Linked DNA regions of Homo sapiens: all the other regions are linked to region 2. The links come from fine-mapping of genetic effects on gene expression. A gene starts in region 2. Each other region holds a variant in brackets. All regions are shown on one strand. Distances are from middle to middle.

Region 1 (4,159 bases), 28 kb after region 2:
CGCGATCTCAGCTCACTGCAACCTCCGCCTCCTGGGTTCAAGCGATTCTCCTGCCTCAGCCTCCCAAGTAGCTGGGATTACAGGCGTGAGCCACCATGCCTGGCTAATTTTTCTATTTTTGGTAGAGATGGGGTTTCACCATGTTGGCCAGGCTGGTCTCAAACTCCTGACCTCAGGTGATCCGCCCGCCTCGGCCTCCCAAGGGTCATAGTCTTCCGTTTGGACTTCAGGGAGCTACTCAGACATTCCCTGAGCTGGAGGGTTCCATGATAATGATCATCAGTCATGGCTTCTGTGGACTGAGCCCCTCACTGGATTCCAGGGACCACCTTGAAGTGGTCTTCATGGCTCTCATCTTTAACACGGGGTAGCCTAGGACCCCTCTAGGACCACCTTGTTACTGCTTTTCATGTATTATCTCATTGCGTCTTCCAGGACGGAGAAGTGGGTCCTGGCTCTGCTGGCCGTCATTCCTCCCAGAGGGATGGGCAGCAGGAACCTGTCGTCCGTGGTACCTGCCGGGTTCCAACCTTGGTCTGTCTGACTCCAGCCCCCCCACAGTGTGACCGTCCGTGGTACCTGCCGGGTTCCAACCTTGGTCTGTCTGACTCCAGCCCCCCCCACAGTGTGACCGTCCGTGGTACCTGCCGGGTTCCAACCTTGGTCTGTCTGACTCCAGCCCCCCCACAGTGTGACCGTCCGTGGTACCTGCCGGGTTCCAACCTTGGTCTGTCTGACCCCAGCCCCCCCACAGTGTGACCGTCCGTGGTACCTGCCGGGTTCCAACCTTGGTCTCTCTGACTCCAGCCCCCCCACAGTGTGACCGTCCGTGGTACCTGCCGGGTTCCAACCTTGGTCTGTCTGACCCCAGCCCCCCCACAGTGTGACCGTCCGTGGTACCTGCCGGGTTCCAACCTTGGTCTGTCTGACCCCAGCCCCCCCACAGTGTGACCGTCCGTGGTACCTGCCGGGTTCCAACCTTGGTCTGTCTGACCCCAGCCCCCCCACAGTGTGACCGTCCGTGGTACCTGCCGGGTTCCAACCTTGGTCTGTCTGACCCCAGCCCCCCCACAGTGTGACCGTCCGTGGTACCTGCCGGGTTCCAACCTTGGTCTGTCTGACCCCAGCCCCCCCACAGTGTGACCGTCCGTGGTACCTGCCGGGTTCCAACCTTGGTCTCTCTGACCCCAGCCCCCCCACAGTGTGACCTGAATTTTCTGCAACCTCCTGTGGCCTTGTCCTGGCAGGAGGTGGGTAACTGTCATGAGTTTCTCAGACCACAAAAACCACAACCACCACCGCCCCCCACAAAAACGGAAACGCCCCTTCTTTCAGCGCTGGCCATGAGGGAGCGGTGGTGATGGATGGCTGACCGTGGAGAATTCTGCATTCCAGGGGACTGAGGTCAGGGCAGGCGGGAGCTGCGTGGCCCTGGTTTCCAGGACTCAGGCTCTGGTGCATTCTCGGGGAGGCTGAGCTCCCCTTCCCGGGTGCCCTCCGTCTACTGAGTGTGCCGAGCTCATTGCTTTCCTGCCTCCCGTCCTCTCTGCCCCTGTGGCTCTCCCAGGGAAATACCCACGGGACCCCAGGTGAAGGTTCCTGCTGCCCGCCCCTCTGGGGCTGGCCCTGCTGGGAGGAATGCCGGCCCCCACCCCCAGCCCTGCCCAGACTCATGCCTGAGGTTTTACTGCTTTCATTCACTTCCATACATGGAAGTGGGGCTTGCCCGCCTCTGCCAGAGAGCGCCTGGATCAGGAGGTTTGTCTCCACACAGCTGACAGACCCTCCCGCCCCCAACCCCCGCCCCCGCCCCCAGCTCGCATTTTTAAAATGTATTGATTGAGAAAGACCCTGGCTTTAACCACATCATGTCTGCAAAAAGAGAGCGTGAGCATCTCAACAGAGAGATCAGGCTGCAGAATTACCCTCTGGTCCCTCGTGCGATCGTTGCAACACTGGCCTCCACCTGGGGGTGTGTTAGAAAGTTCTAAAGAGAAGCTGTTCAGTCTTTTTTTTTTTTTTCGAGATGGAGTCTCACTCTGTCACTCAGGTTGGAGTGCAGTGGTGTGATCTCAACTCACTGCAACCTCTGTCTCCCGGGTTCAAGCAATTCTCGTGCCTCAGCCTCCCAAGTAGCTGGGCTTACAGGCGCCCGCTACCACGCCCAGCTTTTTTTTTTTTTTTTTTTTTTTTTTTTAAGTAGAGACAGGGTTTCACCATGTTGGCCAGGCTGGTTTCGAACTTCTAACCTCAAAAGATCTGCCAGCCTCGGCCTCCCAAAGTGCTGGGATTACA[G/C]GCGTGAGCCACCGTGCCCGGCCGGAAGTGCTTTTTATAATGCGGAGTACTAGGGTTCTACCCGGTTTTTTCTGATTTTGTTTCATAAGCGATTGAGGATTGGACCTTGTACTAGTTAGACTTCCAGAAAGTCAAGAGTTGACAGCAGTAGCTCCTAAAGTAGATTTGGGGAGGAATGTGTCTTTCTTACGGAGGTGTCTTTACTGGCTTGGTGTGTCATTTGTTGGTCTTCTTTGTGCCAAACACTTCGCCATTTCGTCCGACTCTTTCCCCTGCTAACATCTTGGGAACAGTGTTGCGTGTCCCACTGGGTTGTCTCTGTGGTCCTGCTCACGTCCGTCCACTCGGTGGCATCCTCTGAGCCTCCTTATAGTGGAATGTGAGTTATTTTGAAGCCGTAATTCAAGATTGTAAAATTCTAGAAGCACATGCCGAGCTCTGGCTTTGCTTTTGGGGAACGGACGGGGGATGAAATGACTGTGCTGGCCTGGCCGTTTGCACCCCACCCACCCCTGAACACCAGATATAGAAAGTTCTAGAAGCACATGCTGAGCTTTGGTTTTGCTTTTGGGGAATCGACAGGGGATGAAATGACTGTGCTGGCCCGGCCGTTTGCACCCCACACACCCCTGAAAACCAGATATAGTTCCCTGCCTTGGATAAGATCTTAAAAATAAAACCAAGCCTTCGGATCCTTTCTCGTTGGGATTTATTTTAAGCTTGAAATAGCAAACCCTAAAGTTCTTCATCTCTGTACCCACTCCCTTCCCCCACCGAATCCCTTTCTTGTATAAAAAGATTCTGAAATTCTTCCTTGATTCTTTCCTGCCTGGAGGGGAAAGGGGCGAACAGGCACCAGCTTTACTGCTGCAGTCCGTGATGTTGATCTGAATTCCTTCTCCTGCTCTTTTTCTAGTTAAAAAGATTCCCTGCTGTGACCCATGGATGTGTATTCACAGGGCACCGAATTTGTAAGGTGGATGGAACTGCCTTCAGAGTTAAGGGGCTTCTTTTAAGCAATCTTTTTTTCCTTTTTAAAAAAGTGATTTCTTAAGCATCAGGCTGTCTTCAGCCTACTAATTGTTTTGGCTCCAAGGAGGACCAGGACCTGGGGCTAATTGCTTCTGGCATTGACCGTTAGCCCCCGAGAAGCTGCTGGCCAAATGACTGTTACCAGAAGGTGCCCAGGCAGATGCTGGGGCTGAACAATGCATGGCGTCTTCCCACCCCAGCCCCCACTGCTCCAGGCTGAGCCCAGTGGCTCTCCAGGGTCTCAGAGGTCCTCACGTGGCTGCCCCTTTCCAGACTGAGGCAGGGAGGTGGGTCCTAACAGAGGAGGCCCGCGGGGAGAGGAGGAGGCAGCAGGGAGAGGAGGAGGCAGGGGGGAGAGGAGGAGGCCACGGGGAGAGGAGGAGGCAACGGGGAGAGGAGGAGGCAGGGGGGAGAGGAGGAGGCCGCGGGGAGAGGAGGAGGCAGGGGGGAGAGGAGGAGGCCGCGGGGAGAGGAGGAGGCAGCGGGGAGAGGAGGAGGCAGGGGGGAGAGGAGGAGGCCGCGGGGAGAGGAGGAGGCAGGGGGGAGAGGAGGAGGCAGCGGGGAGAGGAGGAGGCCGCGGGGAGAGGAGGAGGCAGCGGGGAGAGGAGGAGGCAGGGGGGAGAGGAGGAGGCCACGGGGAGAGGAGGAGGCCGCGGGGAGAGGAGGAGGCAGCGGGGAGAGGAGGAGGCAGGGGGGAGAGGAGGAGGCCGCGGGGAGAGGAGGAGGCCGCGGGGAGAGGAGGAGGCAGCGGGGAGAGGAGGAGGCAGGGGGGAGAGGAGGAGGCCGCGGGGAGAGGAGGAGGCCGCGGGGAGAGGAGGAGGCAGCGGGGAGA
Region 2 (4,159 bases):
TTACACTGGAACGGCTTGTGTCCTCGGTCTCTTGCCTCAGCGCCTGGGTGGCCTGCCGCCCACACTGTCTCAAAATAAATAAATAAATAAATAAATAAATAAATAAAGTTTTCACTAAAAAGTGATGCTTTCTGTGTGTGTTTTATAATATTGTCCCTACAGTGGCACAGACTTTCAGCATGAAAGTCTCCTGAGAATTAAGGTGGAATTCGACTTTGCAGTAGGATTCTAGGGTGTTCGAAGGCGGTCCTCCATCTAAGATCTTACCTGTGTCATTAGCAATACCAGCAGGTGACTAAGGAAGTGGATATAACTTGTAGAGACGCCAGTCCACTTTCCGCTCCCATCTCCACCTCTCCCAATTGTTTTATATGGTAACATTTCACCAAGCTGGAACCCTGCACCATTCCTTATTCTACCCTAGAAAAACGGAGAACCTTCGATGTGAACACTTACGTTTTGTGCCAAAAGCTTGAAGTTCTATTCTGAGGTTTAAATTAGCTCCCGCAAAGCGTCCTATCATTTGTGTATGTGGAAAGCTGCTGTAAAATAAAAGCATTGTGCCTGGTGTCCCGGCAGTGTCTTTTCACAAATGGAGTTTGGTCGGCCTCATTTTTCACTCTTTCCATTAGGTGGCGATGGATGCACAGGAAATATCCTCCGAAGCGGCGGTGGAAGCTCTGAGAGGGGCGGGTTTTCAGCTTTTATTTTTTTGCTTTCGCTGAGTCGTCAGTAGCTGATCCACACCGGCGGCCTGTTACTGTGGCTGGGCCCGGATCTGCACCTGCTTCGTGCACCAGTGGGTTGGGTTGGGGGGAGGCGCTGCGTGGCCAGAGTACTCGCCACGGACCACCTGTTTTTTTGTTTTTTTTGAGACGGAGTCTTGCTCTGTTGCCCAGGCTGGAGTGCAATGGAGCGATCTCGGCTCACTGCAGCCTCCGTCTCCCGGCTTCACGCCATTCTCCTACCTCAGCCTCCTGAGTTGCTCGGATTACAGGTGCCTGCCACTACACCCCGCTAATTTTTGTATTTTTAGTAGAGGCGGGGGGGGGGTGTCACCATATTGGCCAGGCTGGTCTCGAACTCCTGACCTTGTGATCCACCCACCTCGGCCTCCCAAAGTGCTGGGAATTCAGGCGTGAGCCACCGCGCCCGGCCCAGACCACCTGTTTAATCCAGCTTCTCCCTAAGCATTGGGGAGCATCCTGCCAGCTGGTAGGAAAAAAAAAATCTCTAGAAATGTTCTCAACTATCCATAGACTTGACATGAGGATGGAGCGGATTCAGGAGCGCGGCCAGCATTGGTCTGGAGGCCCCGCGGCGTCCTTTGCATCCATTTGTGGGGCTGGAAGACAGATTCGCTGGGGGGAGAGGCCCCGGCGACCCCTGGACGGAAATCCCACACTGAGACCTGGCACCCTAACCAGACCCCACCAGAAGCTGCGAGGGCGTCCTCGGCCCCCTTAGAACAGCTTGGAACACACAGAGGAGTCAGTGTCCAGCCAGGCCCGGCCTGATGCAGTGAGGACGGCGGGTCCTATAAGCATCTCAGGGTCAGTGGGGCCCGGAGCGGCCTAAGGGTCAGGCTTCGTGCAGGGAGAGGAGGAGGGAAAGGCCGGGGAGGAACAGGAAGAGGGTGAAGAGCTCCGCGGGGAGGGGGCGGGATCCCTGGAGGTCTGGAGGGAATTTAGAACTGGGGAGGAGAGAAAATGCGGGCCGGGCTGCAGCCCGGGAAAGCGCCGGCTCAGCGGGCCCTTCTCCTTTCTTCACTTCGGCCGTGGGCTTTCCAGGGAGAGTGCGGCGTTTCGGGTCCGGCTTCTCGCCCAAGCAGTCACCCCGCGCACCGCGGCCGGCAGCTGCGGACCCCGCCTGGGCGGAGAGCTCTGGCCACCGCCGGCCGCAAACGGGGCGTGGCGAGGGCGGAGGGGGCGTGGCGAGGGCGGGCGGAGGGGCGTGGCGAGGGCAGCCGAAGGGGCGTGGCGCGGGCCGCGGAGGGGGCGTGGCAGGGCGGGGGAAGGGGCGTGGCGCGGGCAGGCGGAGGGGGCGTGGCGTGGGCGGCCCTACTGGGCCGGGCTCTGCTCTCCCCAGCGCCTGCCGCCGACGCCGCCGCCTCCTCCCGCCGCGCGGACCGTGGAGCGGGGTCGCAGCCGCCTGCCCGCCCTGCGGTGGGCCAGGATGTCGGGCTTCCTGGAGGAGCTGCTCGGCGAGAAGCTGGTGACGGGCGGCGGCGAGGAGGTGGACGTGCACTCGCTGGGCGCCCGCGGCATCTCGCTGCTGGGTCTCTACTTCGGCTGCAGCCTCAGCGCCCCCTGCGCGCAGCTCAGCGCCAGCCTGGCCGCCTTCTACGGGCGCCTGCGGGGGGACGCGGCGGCCGGGCCGGGGCCGGGAGCGGGGGCCGGGGCGGCGGCGGAGCCCGAGCCGCGGCGGCGCCTGGAGATCGTCTTCGTGTCCTCGGACCAGGACCAGCGGCAGTGGCAGGACTTCGTGCGGGACATGCCGTGGCTGGCGCTGCCCTACAAGGAGAAGCACAGGAAGGTGAGCGGCGCGGGCCTCGCCGGCCCCTGCCCGCCCCCCACGCCCGTTACCCCTGCCCGCCCCCCACGCCCGTTACCCCTGCCCTCCGCCAACCCCGTTGTCCCCCTGCCCGCCCTCCACCCCCCGACCCCTGCCCCCAGTCCCCCGCCCCCCGACCCACTGTCCTCTCCCCGCCCCCCACCCCGCCGTCCCCGCCTCTGCCCCCCCCCCTTCCGCGCTGTGCCCGCACCCTCATCCCAGGACCCCTCTTTGGTTCGAGTGCTGCGCTGCGCCCGCCCTGGAAAGTTGGACCCCCCTCGGCCCCCGGGATCCCGGCTCGAGCCCCTCCGTCCGCACACGCTGGGAGCCTCGGGTGGGGGCGGCTGCGCTCGGGGATCCCGGTTCCGCGACCCCTTCACCCGCGAGCAGAGGCGCCAGGCCCTTCCTGCCTCCGCCGCCGACCCCCGCGGATTCCCACAGTGGGGAGGGGAGGGGAGGGGAGGGCGCACGCCCCCCGCCCGTGGCGCCCAAACCAGCGCGTTTCCTTTCTTTCCGGGAGAAACCTGCCTTCCCGGAGCCCCTTCCCCGGGGACCGGGGACCTGGGGGCCGAGGCCGAGGTCAGGAGAGGCGGCCGGTGACCGTGGCCGTGGCTGTGGCCGAGAAGGGCGCTCACGGCTCCGTCTCCCGCCCCCGCCTCCCCCGCCCCAGGCTGAGTTCGCGGCCACCGGGGAGCTTTGCATTGTCTGGCCGTCCAGCCTCCTCCCCAGACGCCTCCCGGGCGCGGGAACAGCCCGGGCTGTGCAGAGCTCAGCTGCGTGGTGGCCCCTGTGGTCCCGGGGTCTTCGAGTTAAGGGCTGAGCTGACCCCATCGATGCACATTGACTGGAAGAAGGAGGATTTGGGGAAATGGATACTTTGCTGTCAACTTCTCGTGTCTCCCAGTTTGCTGCCGAGTTGAGTTTGGGTTTCTGAGTGTGTCCCTTGGGTGAGGATGTCTGTCTCTGTGATAATAAAGCACATCCAGGACATTTTGTAATGAATGGAGTCAGAAAAAGTTTTGGAGCGCTGTTGCTTCGTGAGTGTATATGATGCAACGTGTGAATCCAGCCCCTTTCCCTTTTTGAGGAAAGCCTGTTTCTGGAGTGGACAGAAGGGCTATTCTGGGGGCGTTTAGTTTCCTCTGGGGAGCATGGCGAGGCGTGCCACGTGTTCCTTTTATATGTGCAGAATCTTGTTGAGAAGCATGATTTAGATTTACTGGGAGCAAAAGGCTTACACTGTGACCCCAAATGTCTTGAGTAAATCATCCATCCCGAAGCAGTGGGAGGTAGAGATTCGAGATTTAAAGTATGAAATACAGTTGATCCGATGCAGTTTGTAAATTTCATATTGGGAAAACATAGGTTCACTAACCACTCAGAGGCAAGAGTTGGCATTTTTACTGCTTTTTAGGTTATTTTGCCCATTTTGATTGACATGCTTGATATAGTATGAATATGCATGGCCAGTACTTTTTGATTCAAAATACGAGAATCCTTTGTTTTCCTTGGTGGTGGTTTTTGTGATACGTTCGTGGAGAAATAATGTTCAGAAAGGGATTTGCCAAAAAACATTTTCATTGTTACGGCAAGTTTCTGTTGTAGA
Region 3 (4,159 bases), 110 kb after region 2:
TCCCCGGAGAACCCCGAGAACTTGCTGACCAAGCTGGCATCAGTTTTCTTTCCTGGGAACTGTTTCCACTCACATGTTCTGACCCGCAGCCTGAGGCTGGCACCAGCTGAGGGTTTGCAGTATTTGAATGTTGGCCTTGCCCTGACCCATGCTCAAATCATTTGTTTCACTAAGAATATGTATTTTCAGATCACAAACCAGATTAGTCCACATCTAGCAGTTTAATTGCTGATTCAGTTAAAAAGTCCTTGCTTGATAGGGTCTGGGCTGAAATTGAACAACGTTAGAGGCTGCCAGGACTTTTTCTTTCTTTATAAAAGCAGAACTCCATGCACGTACTTAAAACAGGTACATGGTACTGAAGGGTGTTACTGAGGTACAACTCCTCACCTATCCTCTCTCTTAAGGTTCATTTATCTATTTATTGAGATGGGGTCTCTGTCGCCCAGGCTGGAGGGCAATGACGCGATCTCAGCTCACTGCATGCTCCGCCTCCTGGGTACAAGGGTTCTCCTGCCTCAGCCTCCCGAGTACCTGAGACTACAGGCGCCCGCCACCAACTTTTGTATTTTTTGTAGAGACAGCGTTTCACCATGTTGCCCAGGCTGATCTTGAACTCTTCAGTGCAGGTGATCCTCCTGCCTCGGCCTCTCAAAGTGCTGGTATTACAGGTGTGAGCCACTGCGCCCAGCCTTAAGTTTCTTATATACATCCTTCTGAAATATCTTCTGTGCATTTATACATGTATGTGACGGGTATTGTCTGTTCTATTTACAAAAGAAACGTCTGATTTAAAAAAAAAAATCTAATATCTTGCCAGTCTCTTCCTATCGGCATAGCCGACCTGCTTTAATTGTTGCAATAACAGCATTGTATTCTATTGAATATATAGAGCGTAATTTACTTGCCCACTGCCTGATAAATGGATATTTCACTCCTTCCTTCTCCTTTTGCTGTAGCAAATAATACTATGATAAACATTGTCGCACACACTTTTTTTTCTTTTTTTTTGAGATAGAGTCTTGCTCTGTCGCCCAGGCTGGAGTGCAATGCCGCGATCTTAGCTCACTGCAACCTCCACCTCCCGGGTTCAAGCGATTCTCCTGCCTCAGCCTCCTGAGTAGCTGGGATTACAGGCATGTGCTACCACGCTCGGCTAATTTTGTATTTTTAGTAGAGATGGGGTTTCTCCATGTTGGTCAGGCTGGTCTCGAACTCCTGACCTCAAGTGATCTGCCCACCTCGGCCTCCCAAAGTGCTGGGATTACAGGCGTGAGCCACTGCGCCCAGCAACATTGTTGCACATCTATCTCTGCACACTTCACACATGCATATCTGTGAATTGGAATTGCTAAGCCAAAGAATAATGGACATTATTGACTTCTGTAGACATTGCCAAGGTCCTTCTTGGAGGGGAGAGACTGTCATTGCTTTATAGAAAATGTGTAACTCGGCCGGGCGTGGTGGCTCATGCCTGTAATACCAGCACTGTGGGAGGCCGAGGTGGGCGGATCACCTGAGGTCATGAGTTCGAGACCAGCCTGACCAACATGGAGAAACTCCGTCTCTCCTAAAAATACAAAATCAGCCGGGCGTGGTGGTGCATGCCTGTAATCCCAGCTATGCAGGAGGCTGAGGCAGGAGAATCACTTGAATCCAGGAGGCAGAGGTTGCGGTGAGCCAAGATCGTGCCATTGCACTCCAGCCTGGGTGACAGAGGGAGACTCTGTCTCAAAAAAAAAAGTGTAACTCCAGCTTTTGTCAGCCAGCCTGTAATACCAATAGTTTCCCTTGCCCAGAAAACATTGCTACCTAATACAGAGGATATCACCCAATGCGCTTCCACTGAAGGAGCACAGGGAGGGGAGATGGACAATATCGAGCGAGAAAGATGACTTCTGGGAGTTGTGCTTTTCTCCTCTGTTCAATCAGTGTGGACGAGATGATCTGTTTAGTCCCATCTCCTGATTTTACATAAACCAGGCGTGGTTCTAGTTC[C/T]GAGATCCAGGAGCCTGACTGCCAGGACAGCTTAAGCAGGAGGTAAATTCTAGAATCTGCCCTTTAGTTTCTGGATTCTTTATCTTTTCATCCGTGTTGAATGAGAGAGAAGGGTTCAGGGCATCTGGCCCTTCCTTGGGCAGCAGACTGACAGAACACCGCCTGGGTTGCCTCCGTTTTCAGGAGATTTGCAGCAGCTTCCTTAACTTTACCCACCTCTGCCCCTTTAATGCCAAACACATTCCTTAGAGGTCCGTTAATTAGAGGAGCCTCAGAGTGAGCAGTGGGGTCATGATGGTTTCTCTTATAATCAGGTTGGAAAGGATCTCAGGGTGAGTCTGGTAAAAAGCCTTCTGAAATGTTAGACCAGAGAATTATCTGGAGAGGGAGGAAATGCAGGGCAAGTTCCTGCAAAGCCTCACACTCATGTTGGTCTCACCGATGTTTATCAGGGAGAAACAGCCTGTACTCCCAGGGCAGCCGTTTGAACGGGCAGAGCCCACTTTGTTCCTCGATTCTGTTTCTTTCCATGCAATCCGCCCTCCTGACCTAATACCGTTGAGGCTGGTGTCTTGTCCCATGGGACATGGAACTAGGGAACACAGATGGATCTAAGCTAGCACTCCCCTACGTTTTGGCAAATTTAAGAATCAACACTCTGAAGAACCGTGGTTTTGATTCCCTGAGAAGGAAATGGATTAAGACTTACTCTCCCTACTCCGAACTTTTTATCTTGGGAAATTTCAGACCTACAGAAAAGTTGAAGACAAGTACCATGAATGCCCATCCTGTGCCCTTCACCGGAACCGAGCAACGGCAGACGCGTCCCTTCACCGGAACCGAGCAACGGTGAACGTGCCCCTTCACCGGAAGTGAGCAACGGTAAACGTGCCCCTTCACCGGAACCGAGCAACGGTAACTGTGCCCCTTCACCGGAACCGAGCAATGGCAGACGTGTCCCTTCACCGGAACCCAGCAACGGTAACTGTGTCCTTTCACCGAAACTGAGCAATGGTTAACGTGTTTCCTCACTCAGTTCCCAGGCATTGCTGCTGCTGATCTGGGGAACACACTGTATGAGCCTGACATAAACCTCTACAGAGCTCTGTGTAAGCAGTGGGTATGTTTTTTCCCTGAAGGACAGTTGATCCTTGAATGACGTGGATTTGAATTGCAAGGGTCCATTTGTATGTGGACTTTTTTCAACCAGATGTGAATCAAAAATACAGTGTCAGCCAGGTGCAGAGGCTCACACCTGTAATCCCACCACTATGGGAGGTTGAGGCAGGAGGATTGCATCAGCCCAGGAGTTCAAGACCAGCGTGGGCAACATAGAGAGACCCCCATCTCTACAAATAATATTAAAAATTATCTGGGCATGGAGGCATGCTCCTGTGGTCCCAGCTACTCAGGAGGCTGAGTCAGGAGGATCGCTTGAGCCAGGGAGGTTGAGGCGGCAGTGAGATGTGATTGTACCACTGCTCTCCAGCCTGGGGGACAGAGCGAGACCCTGTCTCAAAACAAAACACGGCTGAGCGTGGTGGCTCACACCTGTAATCCCAGCACTTCGGGAGGCTGAGGCGGGCTGATCATGAGGTCAGGAGATCGAGACCATCCTGGCTCACACGGTGAAACCCCGTCTCTACTAAAAATACAAAAAATTAGCTGGGCGTGGTGGCGGGCACCTGTAGTTCCAGCTACTCAGGAGGCTGAGGTAGGAGAATCACTTGAACCCAGGTGGAGGTTGCAGTGAGCTGAGATCGCGCCACTGCACTCCAGCCCAGGTGACAGAGTGAGACTCTGTCTCAAAAAAACAAAGAAGACAGAACAGTATTCGCAGGATGTGAAACCCATGTATGCAGAGGCTGGTTTTTCCTACACTCAGGCTCTGCTGGGCTGATTGTGGGACTTCAGTATATGCGGATTTTGGAATATGTGGGGGTCCCAGAACCAATCCCCTGAGTATACTGTGGGGCATTTGAAAATAGATTATATTTATCATGATATTTCATTCCTAAACCTTCATTATCTCCTAAAAACAAGGGTGTTCTCTTCCTAGCAATAATACCGTTATCATACCCAAGAAATGTAGCATTGATACGTTTAGAGCATAGGTCTGTTGTCTTGCAGAATTTTCCAGAGTCTGAATTTGTCAAATGGT
Region 4 (4,159 bases), 63 kb after region 2:
TTGAGACTGAGTCTCTGTCTCCCAGGCTGGAGTGCGGTGGCGCGATCTCAGCTCACTGCAGCCTCTGCCTCCCGGGTGCAAGCGATTCTCGTGCCTCAGCCTCCTGAGTAGCTGGGATTACAGCCGCCCACCACCGCGCCTGGATAATTTTTGTATTTTTAGTAGAGACAGGTTTTCATCGTGTTGGCCAGACTGCTCTTGAACTGTTGGCCTCAGGTGATCCGCCCGCCTCGGCCTCACTTTCTGGGATTACAGGCATGAGCCACTGCGCCCGGCCTCAACCAAACCCTTTTTAAGTCAAGAAATTAAGACAAAAAGTAGCTGGAATGAAAGTGAGTGATTGACTCGGGAGCCAAATGGAAATGGGAGTCACGGCCTCCCTGAGCCCAGTTCACGAAGGAGATGAAACGCTGCGATGAAACTCGCTGATGGATCGTGCGCTCCTCCCATTTCCTTCCGACCCTCCCGCCTTTTCCTCCAAACCGAACGTTACAAAGGAAAATAATCTTAATCAAGACCAGACCCCTTTGGGCCCAGGGTTCTGGGGCTGTTTCTGGCACAACGGCCAGGCCCAGCACAGCCTGGTTTGTGATTGTTTGATTACAGGAGGAAAATGCTGTGTTGTTTTGGGGGAGGTGATATTGAGTGTTCTCGTGTTTCTTTTGTCTGTTTTTGGCCCATCTTCTTAGTAGGATCATGTTATGAGTTATTTTCTGGTTTAGACACACAACTTTTAAAACTGAAACTGAGATTTCCTTTATGCTGCAAATACGGAGTGAGTTTTTGTGATGTGCCGGGCCCTGCCGTGAGCCATGTGTCTTCCATAAAGTACGAGCTCAGTAAACATTTTATTATTATCCATTAGGGGTTCTTGTCAACAAAACTGAATACAGACCACATTCTTCTTCACCAGTACGCAGTCCCCTTTGTTTGGAACGGGAGTCCCCCCTCTCCTGTCGCTTATCCCCTTTCCCATCCGCCCTTGTCCCCACCTCTGCGAGGCCTTCCTGGGGAGCGAGAGCCACGCCCGCCTGTTGTGCCAGTACGCGCCCCTTGTAGGGCTGGAACCTGGGGTGTCCGTCTAGGAGGTCGGATTGGGTAGGGAAGCTCGCCTGCAGCGGGTGGCCTACATTGGGTTGAGATGGTGACGTGCGTCTGAGCCACGTCCTTGTGGGAGAGCTGGGAATCGAGCCTGTAGACACCAGTGCTAAGTTCAAAGAGTGGGTGGAGATAAAAAATGGGCGTAGGGTGGGACAGCAGGTCCAGAAGGAAGAGGAGGAGCTGGTGTGGTTTCCACAGACGACAGTGTGGGGCTGCTCTGTGAGTTTAGGTTCATGAGTAAAGATGTGAGCGGCGGCTCCCGCCTGTTCTTTCAGAGGCCCAGCACTTTCAGAGGCCAAGGCAGGCGGATCACGAGGTCAAGAGATTGAGACCAGCCTGGCCAACATGGTGAAACCCCGTCTCTACTAAAAATACAAAAAATTAGCTGGGCATGGTGGCGGGCGCCTGTAGTCCCAGCTGCTCGGGAGGCTGAGGCAGGAGAATCGCTTGAACCCGCGAGGCGGAGGCCACGGCGAGCCGAGGTCGCGCCATTGCACTCCAGCCTGGGCTACAGAAAAAAAAAAAAAAGATGTGAGCTCAGGCGTGGAACACCTCATTCCTTGGTTCACTTAGGAACAGGGAATCTTGTTGGAGGCAAAGCGGATGTTTGATTTGTAGCTTCAGCATGTATAACAGAACAGGACACACAGGGAATGTCTGATAATGTGATTAATGAATGAAGATAAAGACCCACCAAAAATACCCACCTTCAAGGTGGTTTGAAAATTTACAACGAAGAGGTTAGGGTGGTAACTAACCTAGAGGCCTGTTGGTTGCTGTAATTTTTTTTTAGAGATGAAGTTTCTCTCTGTTGCCCAGGCCGGAGTGCAATGGCATAACCTCAGCTCACTGCAACCTCCACCTCCCGGGTTCAAGTGATTCTCCTGCCTCAGCCCCCGAAGTGGCTGGGATTACAGATGTCCGCCACCACACCTGGCTAGTTTTTTGTATTTTTAGTGGAGACCTCAGGTGATCCACCTGCCTCGGCCTCCAAAAGTGCTGGGATTACGGGCGTGAGCCACCGTGCCCGGCCAGCTGCTGTAATTTGTGAGCTTAATGTTAAAATCCTGAGTGCTTTGCAGGGATCCCTGGGATCCCCAAACACTTAAAACTGATTCCTTGGATATTTACAGTAGCTACTGCAGCTGGGGTGCAATTTCACATTTTACCAGGAGGGACTGTCTGAAATCTCCTTCATTTTTAAGTTTTGGAATGTGTTTATATTTATTTTCCTTTTTT[T/G]TAGTTTGGTAACTTTGAAATGTCATACGTTAATTTTACGTAAAACAAGGGATTTGACTTTGACTCATTTCCAAAAGGCCCCTTGCAGGGAAAATTGTCTTTTAAATTGTTTTAAATAATCTCATTTTCAGCAGGAAGAAGTAGAAAGGATAAAATGGATCCTGCACCACGGGAACCTCACAGCACCTCACTCCTTGTGGCTTTTCCTGTTTGATACTCTGCTTTCTGAAAGATGCAATTTTCTGCCTCCATTTCTGTTGCCGACGTGCCAGGATTTCTAGCAAAGTGGGCCTAGAGTTTTGCTGGAGGTTACTTTTCCTTGGAAGCAATTCAAATACAATCATCATTCTGTTTCTCCCTTTTCATTCGACATTTGAGTAGAACAATGGCTTGGCAGCCAGACAGGCGCTCTTAAGAGCTTCAGTGTTTTTATCTTTGCCTTTTGAGAAGTGCCTTTACAAAATGTGGTTTAAAATTGAGCCTACAAACAAAAACACAGAACCGATTGCTTGGAGACCAAAACTCTAGGGACAAGGACAAAAGAACTGGGAGAGGGGGAGCAGCTGGAAGTTCCAGCTCTGACACCATAAGTGGCCGCCCATTTTAGGGGAAGTTTCGGCTCTGACACCATAAGTGGCCGCCCATTTTAGGGGAAGTTTCACCTGGAAGCCCCAGCTCTGGCCCCATAAGTGGTCAGGCATTTTAGTGTTGCACTAACTGGTCTCTGCCTTCTTGGTTTATTGCCAAGTTTCCAGCCCTGGGGTATCCTTGTTATTTACTTTCCTCCTGCACCAAAGCTCGGAAGCGTTACACTATGTACTCATTCATTCTCACTTTTACTCCTTTCTTAGAAATAATTTCCTAGAGTCCAGGTGTGGTGTCTTATATCTGTAATCCCAGCACTTTGGGAGGCTGAGGCAGGTTGATTGCCTGAGCCCAAGAGTTTGAGACCAGTCTGGGCAACATGGCAAAACCCAGTCTTTACAAAAAAATACAAAAATTAGCTGGGTGTGATGGCACACTCCCGTAGTCCCAGCTACTTGGGAGGCGGAGGCAGGAGGATTGTCTGAGCCCAGGAGGTGGAGGTTGCAGTGAGCCGAGATGACTCCAGCCTGGGCGACAGAGTGAGACTCTATCTCAGAAAGAAAGAGAGAAAGAATTCCTAGAGGTCATGCTAATCATAATCCCACTTATTCTCAACTATAAAATCCTCAACTGGCCGGGTGCAGTGGCTCACGCCTGTAATCCCAGCACTTTTGGAGGCTGAGGTGGACCTATCACGAGGTCAGAAGTTCGAGGCCAGCCTGGCCAATATGGTGAAACCCCATTTCTACTAAAAATACAAAAAATGAGCTTGGCGTTGTGGCGGGTGCCTGTATTCCCAGCTATTTGGGAGGCTGAGGCAGGAGAATCTCTTGAACCTGGGAGGCAGAAGTTGGAGTGAGCCGAGATCGCACCACTGCACTCCAGCCTGGCGAGCGAGACTTTGTCTAAAAAAAAAAATCAACTCTGAAATTTTTCCAGTACAAGTGTCTGCGATTTCACCCCCTTTAATATTTTAGGAAAACTCATCTCACTTGCTTGCTTTATTTGCCTGTGCTGTTGGTTCCACGCACTCATCAGCTCCTCCAGGGGAAGCCCTGGTTCCCCACATCCAGCTCCGCCTCCTCTACACCCAACAGTCTTGCTTCCCACATCACGGTACGCTCCCTGTTAACTCGCTTGCTGAGTTAATGACCTCACTCAATGGACTGTGGACTCTTTGAAGGTCAGAAGCGAGTCTCTGCTCCTCATCTTTGTCTCCGCCTGGTTCGATGCT

Direction of the effects. Alleles are on the strand shown, and positions count from the first base shown. SD is a standard deviation of normalised expression in the study named. Not every link is listed here.
As copies of G replace T in region 4, the expression in monocytes after R848 of the gene that starts at base 2,078 in region 2 goes up (large effect, 1.3 SD a copy in Quach 2016).

Evidence for each region. PIP is the estimated chance that this variant, and not a neighbour inherited with it, causes the effect. A credible set is the group of variants that fine-mapping cannot tell apart.
Region 1: its variant is the best candidate, but not a certain one, in a credible set for the expression of NXN in tibial artery (GTEx, PIP 0.70).
Region 3: its variant is the best candidate, but not a certain one, in a credible set for the expression of NXN in aorta (GTEx, PIP 0.65).
Region 4: its variant is the best candidate, but not a certain one, in a credible set for the expression of NXN in monocytes after R848 (Quach 2016, PIP 0.56).

Annotation. Positions count from the first base shown.
Region 1 is chr17:949,214-953,372 of GRCh38, reverse strand. The region is part of intron 1 of NXN (nucleoredoxin); the gene reads left to right. Among named protein-coding and RNA genes, the nearest start is that of NXN, 28 kb to the left of the region's middle. RefSeq lists an enhancer at 2,713-3,605. The variant G/C (reference allele first, on the strand shown) is at 2,296.
Region 2 is chr17:977,695-981,853 of GRCh38, reverse strand. It overlaps NXN (nucleoredoxin), which reads left to right and starts at 2,078. Exons shown (of 8, transcript NM_022463.5): 1 at 2,078-2,535. The coding sequence starts at 2,176. RefSeq lists enhancers at 511-805, 2,230-3,165.
Region 3 is chr17:862,835-866,993 of GRCh38, reverse strand. The region is part of intron 1 of NXN (nucleoredoxin); the gene reads left to right. Among named protein-coding and RNA genes, the nearest start is that of MRM3, 83 kb to the right of the region's middle. The variant C/T (reference allele first, on the strand shown) is at 1,999.
Region 4 is chr17:914,632-918,790 of GRCh38, reverse strand. All of the region lies in intron 1 of NXN (nucleoredoxin), which reads left to right. Among named protein-coding and RNA genes, the nearest start is that of NXN, 63 kb to the left of the region's middle. RefSeq lists an enhancer at 1-262. The variant T/G (reference allele first, on the strand shown) is at 2,341.